Linked DNA regions of Homo sapiens. The protein of the gene in region 1 purifies or fractionates together with the protein of each later gene. This does not show direct contact. Each region holds a gene or a part of one and is shown in the gene's direction. Other genes may lie near its edges.

Region 1 (5,611 bases):
ATACAGGCGAAGCTGAGTCAAGAAATTCAAACTTTGCAACTGTAGGAGCAGGTTCAGAGGACTGGGTGAATGCTATTGAGTTTGTTCCTGGGCAACCCTACTGTGGCCGTAGTAAGTATTCTGAAGAAGAAAATAAGAGTTAGAGGGCTGGATAGCAGTTCATCCATTTGCTTAGTTTTGACAACTTTCCCCTTTCTGCTTCTATTCCTTTTTTAGTTTAATCTTAGTACAGTACTTTAATTTGGATTACCTAAGATTTACAGATAGAGTGAAGGAAATTTTTAATCCCAGTGAAATGAATTCAGAATGTTTTGAAAAACTGAATCCTTTCGAGTACTTTTTGAAATTAAATTTCAGTTACCCAAGACATAGATAAAGAAGCAATTTTTTTTTTTTACAAGTCTAATCTTGGAAATAACAGCGGTAGAAAAAATTCCTTTCTTTCAAGTGAAGAAGTTAGTTCAGTAGACTGTTTTGGTATTTCATTGCAGTTTTATTTTCATTTTTTGCGGTTAGATTCTCAGTTCTCTTATAGTTCATGCCTTATCTATTTGGACCTTTACCACCCTCTTACACATTTTCAGCTGCGCCTTCCTGCACTGAAGCACCCCTGCAGGGCTCAGTGACCAAGGAAGAATCAGAGAAAGAGCAAACCGCCGTGGAGACAAAGAAGCAGCTGTGCCCCTATGCTGCAGTGGGAGAGTGCCGATACGGGGAGAACTGTGTGTATCTCCACGGAGATTCTTGTGACATGTGTGGGCTGCAGGTCCTGCATCCAATGGATGCTGCCCAGAGATCGCAGCATATCAAAGTAAGTCTTTAGGGAGATGTGTGTGTTATTAGATGTGAGAATCATTATTTGCCCTTTCACAGCATTGTGGGTTTATTTCAGAGAAACATTTGATGAATTGAATGGTTATCAGTGAGTAGGGAAGTTTTCCTTTCTTGGGCTTCTTGGATGCTTTATCAAGAAGTCATATTTCCAGTGAACAAAATTAACTGGGCATGGAGGCATGTGTCTATAGTCCCAGCTACTTGTTAGGCTGAGGCAAGAGGATCGCTCAAGCCCAGGAGGTTGAGGCAAAAGAAAAAAAGAAGTCCTACTTCCAGAAACTCAGACTATAGACTTCTAACATTTTTTTCCTCTTTTAAAAAATAATGTTTCTGAGATTCACATTGAATATGTTTAATCTTTTGAAAATGCACATTTCATTGGTTTTTAGTATATTTACAGAGATGTGCAACCATTACCATTTTACTAATTTTAGGATAATTTGATCATCCTACACCCATTAGCAGTCACTCTTTATTCCAGCCTTCCTCCAGCTCCTGGCAATAACGAATCTGCTTTGTCTCTGGATTGGCCTATTGTGGACATTTCATGTAAATGGAATCCTGTAATGTGGTCCTTTGTGATTGACTTCACTTCTTTCACTTAACATAGTGTTTTCAAGGTTCTTTGTGTGGTTGCGTGTAGCCGTTCTTAGTTTTGATGGCTGAATTATTGTCTTTGTATGGCTAGACCACATTTGTTTTTCCATTCATGAGTTGATGGACACTTAGATCATTTCCAGTTTTTGGCTATTATGAATAAGGCTGCTAGGAACATTTGTATATAGGTTTTTCTGTGAAGATATGTTTTCCGTTACCTAGGAGTGGAATTGCTGGGTTACATAGGAACTCTGCTTTACGTTTTGATGAACTGCCATACTTTTCCACAGTGGCTGCAGGATTTTACATTTCCAGCAGCAGTGTATGGGAGCCAGGGTAGGTTCAGAAGACATTGTGTTAGAAACTTTAACTTTATTGGAGCAAAGTTTGCTTCTAATCATTTCCATCTCTTTTAAATTTCCATCTTTTTAAATGTGGTTTTAGGGTGTGAGGCATGTTATAAGGTAGACATAATTTGATCCCTATCTTCAGCGTACTTTTGTGAATTTAGGCAGGATAAATCTCTATACGTTATATCTATATATTGAGGTAGTAGAACCTACCTCTGAATATATGTATATATGTTTTTTCTTTTAAAGGTTTAGGAAAAGACATGTTTAGTGATGATGTGAGATTATGGATGACATTGCTCTTCTGCAGTGTTATTTTTTTTATTTTTATTTTTTTTTGAGACAGAGTCTTGCTTTGTCCCCCAGGCTGGAGTGTAGCAGTGCAGTCTCGGCTCACTGCAGCCTCTGCCTCCCGAATAGCTGGGACTACAGGCATGCACCACCACGCCTGCCTCAGTTTTGTATTTTTAGTAGAGATGGGGTTTCGCCATGTTGACCAGGCTGGTCTCGAACTCCAGGCCTCATGTGATCCACCCAACCTTGGCCTTCCAAAGTGCTGGGAGTTTTCTGCATTTTTATGTTTCCTATAATCATGTTTTTTATAAGTTAAAATATGATGTCCACACAAAAATTGGTACATGAATGTTCTTGGCAGCATTATTTATAATAGCCCCAAAGTGGGCTAATCTAACCTAACCTAAGTGTGCATCAGTCTATCAAGCTGAGTAGTTGAAAAATCTCGATGAAGTTGTTTTTCTTTAAAGGCATAAGAGAGTTTACGTGCCTGTCACCCTTATTTTCCGACAGGTTTTAACTAGGGTCTTAACCTCATGTAGAAACCAGAAATAACAAACAGTATGGAAAACCGTCTTTAATGTAGTTGAGCTCCAGGTTTGGGGTAGAGAAAATTGGGTAATTTTTCAGTTCCCGAAGTTGAGTCCTCATAGTTTGATTTTCTAGTATTGTTAAGTACCACCGCAAAAACAAACAAACAAAAAAAAAACACCACACCTGTGTTTACTTGTCAGCAAAGCTAATTTTCGTGTCAGCTTGGGAACATTGTTTTTTCAGTTGACTATTTGATTCTTTGACTGTGAATCATTAACTGTTGCTCAAGTTTTTCAGGGTTCAATGACTGGATTCCACTTGTTCTCTCTCCACCTTCTCTAGTCGTGCATTGAGGCCCATGAGAAGGACATGGAGCTCTCATTTGCCGTGCAGCGCAGCAAGGACATGGTGTGTGGGATCTGCATGGAGGTGGTCTATGAGAAAGCCAACCCCAGTGAGCGCCGCTTCGGGATCCTCTCCAACTGCAACCACACCTACTGTCTCAAGTGCATTCGCAAGTGGAGGAGTGCTAAGCAATTTGAGAGCAAGATCATAAAGTGAGACTCCTCCCCAGTCTTCATTTGTGCTTTCTCTTTTGGGGAAGAATTTAGTAACTTGTGCCAACTTTCAACCAGATGGACCGCATTTAAATGCATGCATTTTATCTTGAAACTGGGATATTCTAATGGGGATTTCTTCTTTGTATTTCAGCTAGCTTCTAGGTTAGTTGGTCTATCTACTTTTATTTGAATGAGGAAACCCTGTGTATCAGTTAGAATCTTCGTGCTTTTTCTGAGGAGATTGTGTTTAATGGATTATTAGCCAGTTTAGGCTCAGTGAACAAACTGATCTAGCTCTGAATGTATGTTTCCTGACGTTTTACATTTCCACTTTCCTATTCCATTCATTAAGCTAGCCAACAATCCACCATCCTTTAAAGATTGTTCTCATAACTGAACAAAAACCACATAATCTAAACAGAGCAAAGCTACAAGAAATAAATTTATTTAAACGAAAGAAAAAGGAGTCTGTGTGAAATGTCTTCTTTTGTTTTTGTTTTTTACCTAAGTTATATTTTTCAAAAAAAAAAAAAAAGAACTGGCTAGCCCTTGAGTTGGATTTATAAAGGAGGTTGCCTTGCTTGAAAGAAATGGTCAGTTGTGTGACAGTATGTGGAACCCTTTCAGGAAATGCCCACGTGCCTTTCAGTTAAGTCTTTAAGTCTGGAGGCGACACACCAGGGTGTGTCCTTGAAGAGTGGGCCTGTAAAAGGGGAATTTGCATTGCAGCCTGTTCATTGTTTCCCAGGTCCTGCCCAGAATGCCGGATCACATCTAACTTTGTCATTCCAAGTGAGTACTGGGTGGAGGAGAAAGAAGAGAAGCAGAAACTCATTCTGAAATACAAGGAGGCAATGAGGTATGAGCACTGCAGCCTTTTCTCAAGCGAAGAGCCCAACAGAGCTTGGGTTCACTTTGAAAAGAATGGTGCTGCATTATACACTCCTACCTCCTTCCTACCCTTCTTTGACTTCCCAGGACAGTTTATTTTGTCACCCTGATAACATCCAGTATATATCTTGCTATAACACAGTCCTTGGGGTCCATGCCAAGGGACTGTGTTATAAAGAGGTCTCTACTGTTGACAAGTAAGGCCCCATGAGTGGGGTTCTACCTTATTCTGAATCCGTGTCATAGCTGTCCTATGTTCTCATGTGTTGGCTTTCTAGAAGATTTTCTCTCTATGGCATCTGCTTGTACTAGAGCTATTAACCAGCATAGACTTGAACAGAGTTACCGGTTTCTAGTTAGTGTTTCTTGCATTGGCACACACATGTTTATAAGAACACATCTTGGGGAGGGCTGTAAGCTGACATACTGGTTCTATCCCTACCTGTTTAAAGAAACCCCGGATGATAGTCAAATACAGACCTGAAATCCACTGTGAATAAGGGTTGCGATATTTTCCTTTCCAGCAACAAGGCGTGCAGGTATTTTGATGAAGGACGTGGGAGCTGCCCATTTGGAGGGAACTGTTTTTACAAGCATGCGTACCCTGATGGCCGTAGAGAGGAGCCACAGAGACAGAAAGTGGGAACATCAAGCAGATACCGGGTAACTCTCACTGTTTTTTTAAAGGAGGGGAAATTCCAAGGTATCAGTTGAGTCCTGCACATATTGGGGTAGGGGAAGGAGAAGGTTAACGCTCAGGTCTGGGAGCGAAAGTGTAGAGTATTAAAGGAGGAAACAAACCTCAGAAAACTGGGAGGGATAGGAAAGGAAGAAAAAATGTGTGTTAAAGCTCTAGCCTAAACGATTTCCATGAAGTAACCAGAGGGGAGGAAGTGGTAAATGGAAACCCTAACTAAGAAGTCTGGTTCGTCATGCCCTCTGGTGTGCTGGACGTTTTGCCTTATAAACAACAGGATAGAAGATACTGCTCGACAGTGCCATCCCTATCATGGCCTTGTTTTTTACAGGCCCAACGAAGGAACCACTTCTGGGAACTCATTGAGGAAAGAGAGAACAGCAACCCCTTTGACAACGATGAAGAAGAGGTTGTCACCTTTGAGCTGGGCGAGATGTTGCTTATGCTTTTGGCTGCAGGTGGGGACGACGAACTAACAGACTCTGAAGATGAGTGGGACTTGTTTCATGATGAGCTGGAAGATTTTTATGACTTGGATCTATAGCAACCTTGCGTGGCGTGTGAACTGGTCTGCTGACCTCAGACAGCAGCTGTCCCCTGTGGTGGTGTGGCAGTGCCTGTGTTCTCTCCTAGGCAGGCCTCTCAACTCCAGGTGCTGTCCTAAGAATTTTTACCCAGGGCCTGTCTTCTCAACCCCTCACCTTTCCCTGAGGAGTGTGTTGTTTTCCCTGTTGAAAAAAGTTACAAAAATAAATCTTAAAGTTAGTTTTTTGTAACACGAATTTAACTGTCAGACAGTTAGTGTAGGTGTGTTGCGTCATCTGTTTTCAACCAGATTGCATTTATGGACTTTT
Region 2 (3,500 bases), on another chromosome or scaffold:
AGAAGCTGAAGTGGGAAGATCGCTTGAGCTTGGGAGGTTGAGGCTGCAGTGAGCCATGATCCTGCCACTGCACTCCATCCTGGACAACAGTGAGACCTTGTCTCCCCCCACCCCCAAAACATGCAAATTGGGACATCAAATTGTTAATGGTGTTTACAATGAACAGTGCCTTCAGGTAGCTGCAGCTACTCTACATAGATTTGCAAGTTTTTGTAGTGATAGGCTATGGTAGATGTTACCAGCCAAGGAGTGGCTGACAAACTCCTTTCACTGTTATTTCATTGTCATGTTAAAATTCATATTTTCCGTCAAAATAGTGATAGCTAGGATTATAATCTAGGTCTTCTAATCTTAGTAACGTGTTGTCTATGTTAGGGCCTCTCAAAGTTGTAAAAAAGCTGTATAGATGTGTTACCATCAATCGATTTCATTTGTTTTTATCCTAGTGTTAAAGGTACAAGTTTTTTTTTTTTTTTCTTTCCTGAGGCGGACTTTCACTCTTGTCGCCCAAGCTGGAGTGCAATGGTGCGTTCTTGGCTCACTGCATCCTCCGCCTCTCGGGTTCAGGTGATTCTCCTGCCTCAGCCTCCCGAGTAGCTGGGATTACAGGTGCCCTCCACCACACCTGGCTAATTTTTTTTTTTTTTGTATTTTTAGTAGAGTTGGGATTTCACCATGTTGGCCAGGCTGGTCTTGAACTCCTGACCGCAGGTGATTCGCCCGCCTCGGCCTCCCAAAGTGCTGGGATTGCAGGCGTGAGCCACGGCGTACCTGGCCAAAGGTACAAGTTTTAAATATGCTTTTATCATGCATACAGTACTCTTATAGATTCTGTCAGATTTAGGGATATTCTTTTCAGATTGATAAATTGCACAAAAATCTTGGAGTATATTCTTGTAATTTCTTCTACAAAATTCTCAAAACAACCTTTTTCCAATGGGGAGAAGACATGAACACTGAAGTCATGTTTTTGGAAAATACCTTGTTAAAAACAGACACTGCTGTAAGGGTTTCCTTGCTTATGCTCTTTTGTAGAACTTTATTGATGTGAAGAGTTCTCCTTTTTCTGTAAAAGCTTATTTTAGAGTACGAAGTAAATGAGGCACTCAGAGAGTTAACCTCATCAGGTCTGAGTTTAGTTCAGTTTAAACTTTTTGCTCTTATGCTGGTTGATATCTTTGTAACTACTCTACTTCTAGAGTTATTTTGATTGGAAAATGAATTCCTTTTTTAGAACATGGAATTGTAAGGTAGAAAACTGCTAGGTTCTCAAAAGAAGGGAGATAAATTCCAACTTGAAAGTTTTTTCCCCTAACGTTCTAATGCTTTGTTTTTCCTGTGTGTAAATGCCTTCCTTAGGAACAAGGAAAATTATTAACTCAGCTGTGTTTCCTTCCCTTCTCTTTCTCACTGCCCCCCCGCCACCCCATACCTTAATACCTTTTGTCCCTTCAATGCCTTTATAAACTCTGTCTTCTCATAGTTTTTCTGGTGAAGCTGTCATGGCTCCTATTTCAACCATAAAGGATTTGCAGTTCAGTGATGCTACTGGTTTTACATCTTCTTTCCCATCAACCCCATTGCCCTGGTTAGGAGACCTAGACCATGGAGTACATTGCAATATTGAAAGTATTTCATGTTTAACACAATTTTTTTTTTTTTTTTTGAGACCGAGTCTCGTTCTGTTGCCCAGGCTGGAGCGCACTGGCACGATCACGGCTCACTGCAACCTCTGCCTCCAGGGTTTAAGCGATTCCCCTGCCTCAGCCTCCTGAGTAGCTGGGACTACATACAGGTGCGTGCCACCACGCCCGGCTAATTTTTGTACTTTAGTACAAATTGGGTTTCACTGTGTTGGCCAGGCTGGTCTTGAACTTCTGACCTCAAGTGACCCATCTGCCTTGGCCTCCCAGAGTGCTGGGATTACAGGCGTGAGCCACTGCGCCCGGCCATGTTTAACACAAATTTGAAAGCGTACTGCTTAGTTTTTTAGGGGGAGTATGATAATCATAGAGATGAGACTTGATCTTTGCTGAAAGTGTTCTTTATGAAGTCTGATGTGCATAAATTTGCCCAATAAAATGCTCTTTTATTTACACAAATCATTTTAGTCGCACTGTAGCCAGAGTGTGGCATAGCCTGATGGCTGGCCTCTTTTCAGAAACTCATCAGGACTGCCCTAGGCCTCGCCCTGTGTGTGCTTCCACTTCTGTGTCTTCCTTCTTGCCCTGCCCCACCTTTTAATCAGGACCACGCCTCCCTCTCCTACCTTGGTGTTGCAAACGTTGTAGCCATTGCTGTTGGTAGATTCTTTGACTGAAATTGAATGTCCACCTCCTTTAAAAAAATTTTTAAAATATTTACTTAGCTCCTTAAACCATCCTTAAAAAGATATTTTAGGAGTCCTCCAGACTGCTTTGCATTAACTTCTGAGATTATGCTTCTCTGTTTCTGTAGCAACTAAGTGTACCTTTGTGTTACTTAGCACATAATTAATGTAAGCTCCTTGTGAGTGAGATTCTCTTTTTATGCTTGTCACCTCTGCCCAGCCCAGGGACTGGTAAACTGTAGATGTTTAGTGAAAGTAATTCAAGTAAAGAGATAAGAATGCTCAAAGACATCTCCCACCTGTGTTCCAGAGAAATTGTTTGCTGATTGTATACTTGCACATTTCTGTAAACAAATAGGAAAATCTTTACTCAAAAAGCATACATTAGAAAGTTTCTTATAGAGTATAAAAGTTATATTTACAAGTTTTTAACTGACTTTTCATAGCTACATTTAGCGCATAAAGTATTTTCAGATAGAGTAATTTAGCCACATGACCTTTAAATTATACTGTTTCTCAGTCTTTAAAAACGTGCCCTCTTTCGGCCAGGCACTTTGATTCACGCCTGTAATCCCAGCACTCTGGGAGGCCGAGGCGGGTGGATCACCTGAGGTTAGGAGTTCGAGACCAGCCTGGCCAACATGGTGAAAACCTGTCTGTACTAAAAATACAAAAATTAGCCAGGCGTGGTGGTGCGTGCTCGTAATCCCAGCTACTTGGGAGGCTGAGGCGGGAGAATTGCTTAAACCCGGGAGGCAGAGGTTGCAGTGATCTGAGATCACACCACTGCACTCCAGCCTGGGCGACAGAGTGAGGCTCTGTCTGAAAAAAAATGAAATAAAATAAAATAAATGCCCCCTTTTAGATAGCCATAGAATTTCTTACCTTTATTTTGCTTTAAAATAAAAACATCATGTTAACCCAAAATGAAACAATTGCAATATTGAAAATGTATCTTTTAAACTTTAGTGGATGTTTTTCCATTTTTTATTTTCTGTTAAGTATTGCTAAAGGGCCTGGCATAAAGGAGGGCCACTGAGATTACGGTAAGAAAAGGGTTCATTTTCTTCCTGTGGCAGGTGTTCTGACCAGTTGAACACTAGGGATGCAAAGATGAAAGGCAACAGGATTTTTCTGTAAGGCCCGTCATCCAGCAGGAATAGGAAAGTGC

What was found.
Region 2: the proteins of MKRN1 (region 1) and LARP4B purify together in Homo sapiens (affinity purification with mass spectrometry, with the first as the bait; one large-scale study listed by BioGRID). This does not show direct contact.

What each region holds. Positions count from the first base shown.
Region 1 is NC_000007.14:140,454,207-140,459,817, reverse strand, and holds part of MKRN1 (E3 ubiquitin-protein ligase makorin-1), read left to right. Parts: coding exon 1-111; intron 112-584; coding exon 585-811; intron 812-2,951; coding exon 2,952-3,166; coding exon of another isoform or gene 3,167-3,170; exon of another isoform or gene 3,171-3,603; intron 3,604-3,917; coding exon 3,918-4,028; intron 4,029-4,584; coding exon 4,585-4,723; intron 4,724-5,088; coding exon 5,089-5,301; 3' UTR 5,302-5,611. UniProt on the Homo sapiens protein: E3 ubiquitin ligase catalyzing the covalent attachment of ubiquitin moieties onto substrate proteins. These substrates include FILIP1, p53/TP53, CDKN1A and TERT.
Region 2 is NC_000010.11:925,206-928,705, reverse strand, and holds part of LARP4B (la-related protein 4B), read left to right. Parts: intron 1-41; exon of another isoform or gene 42-3,500. UniProt on the Homo sapiens protein: Stimulates mRNA translation.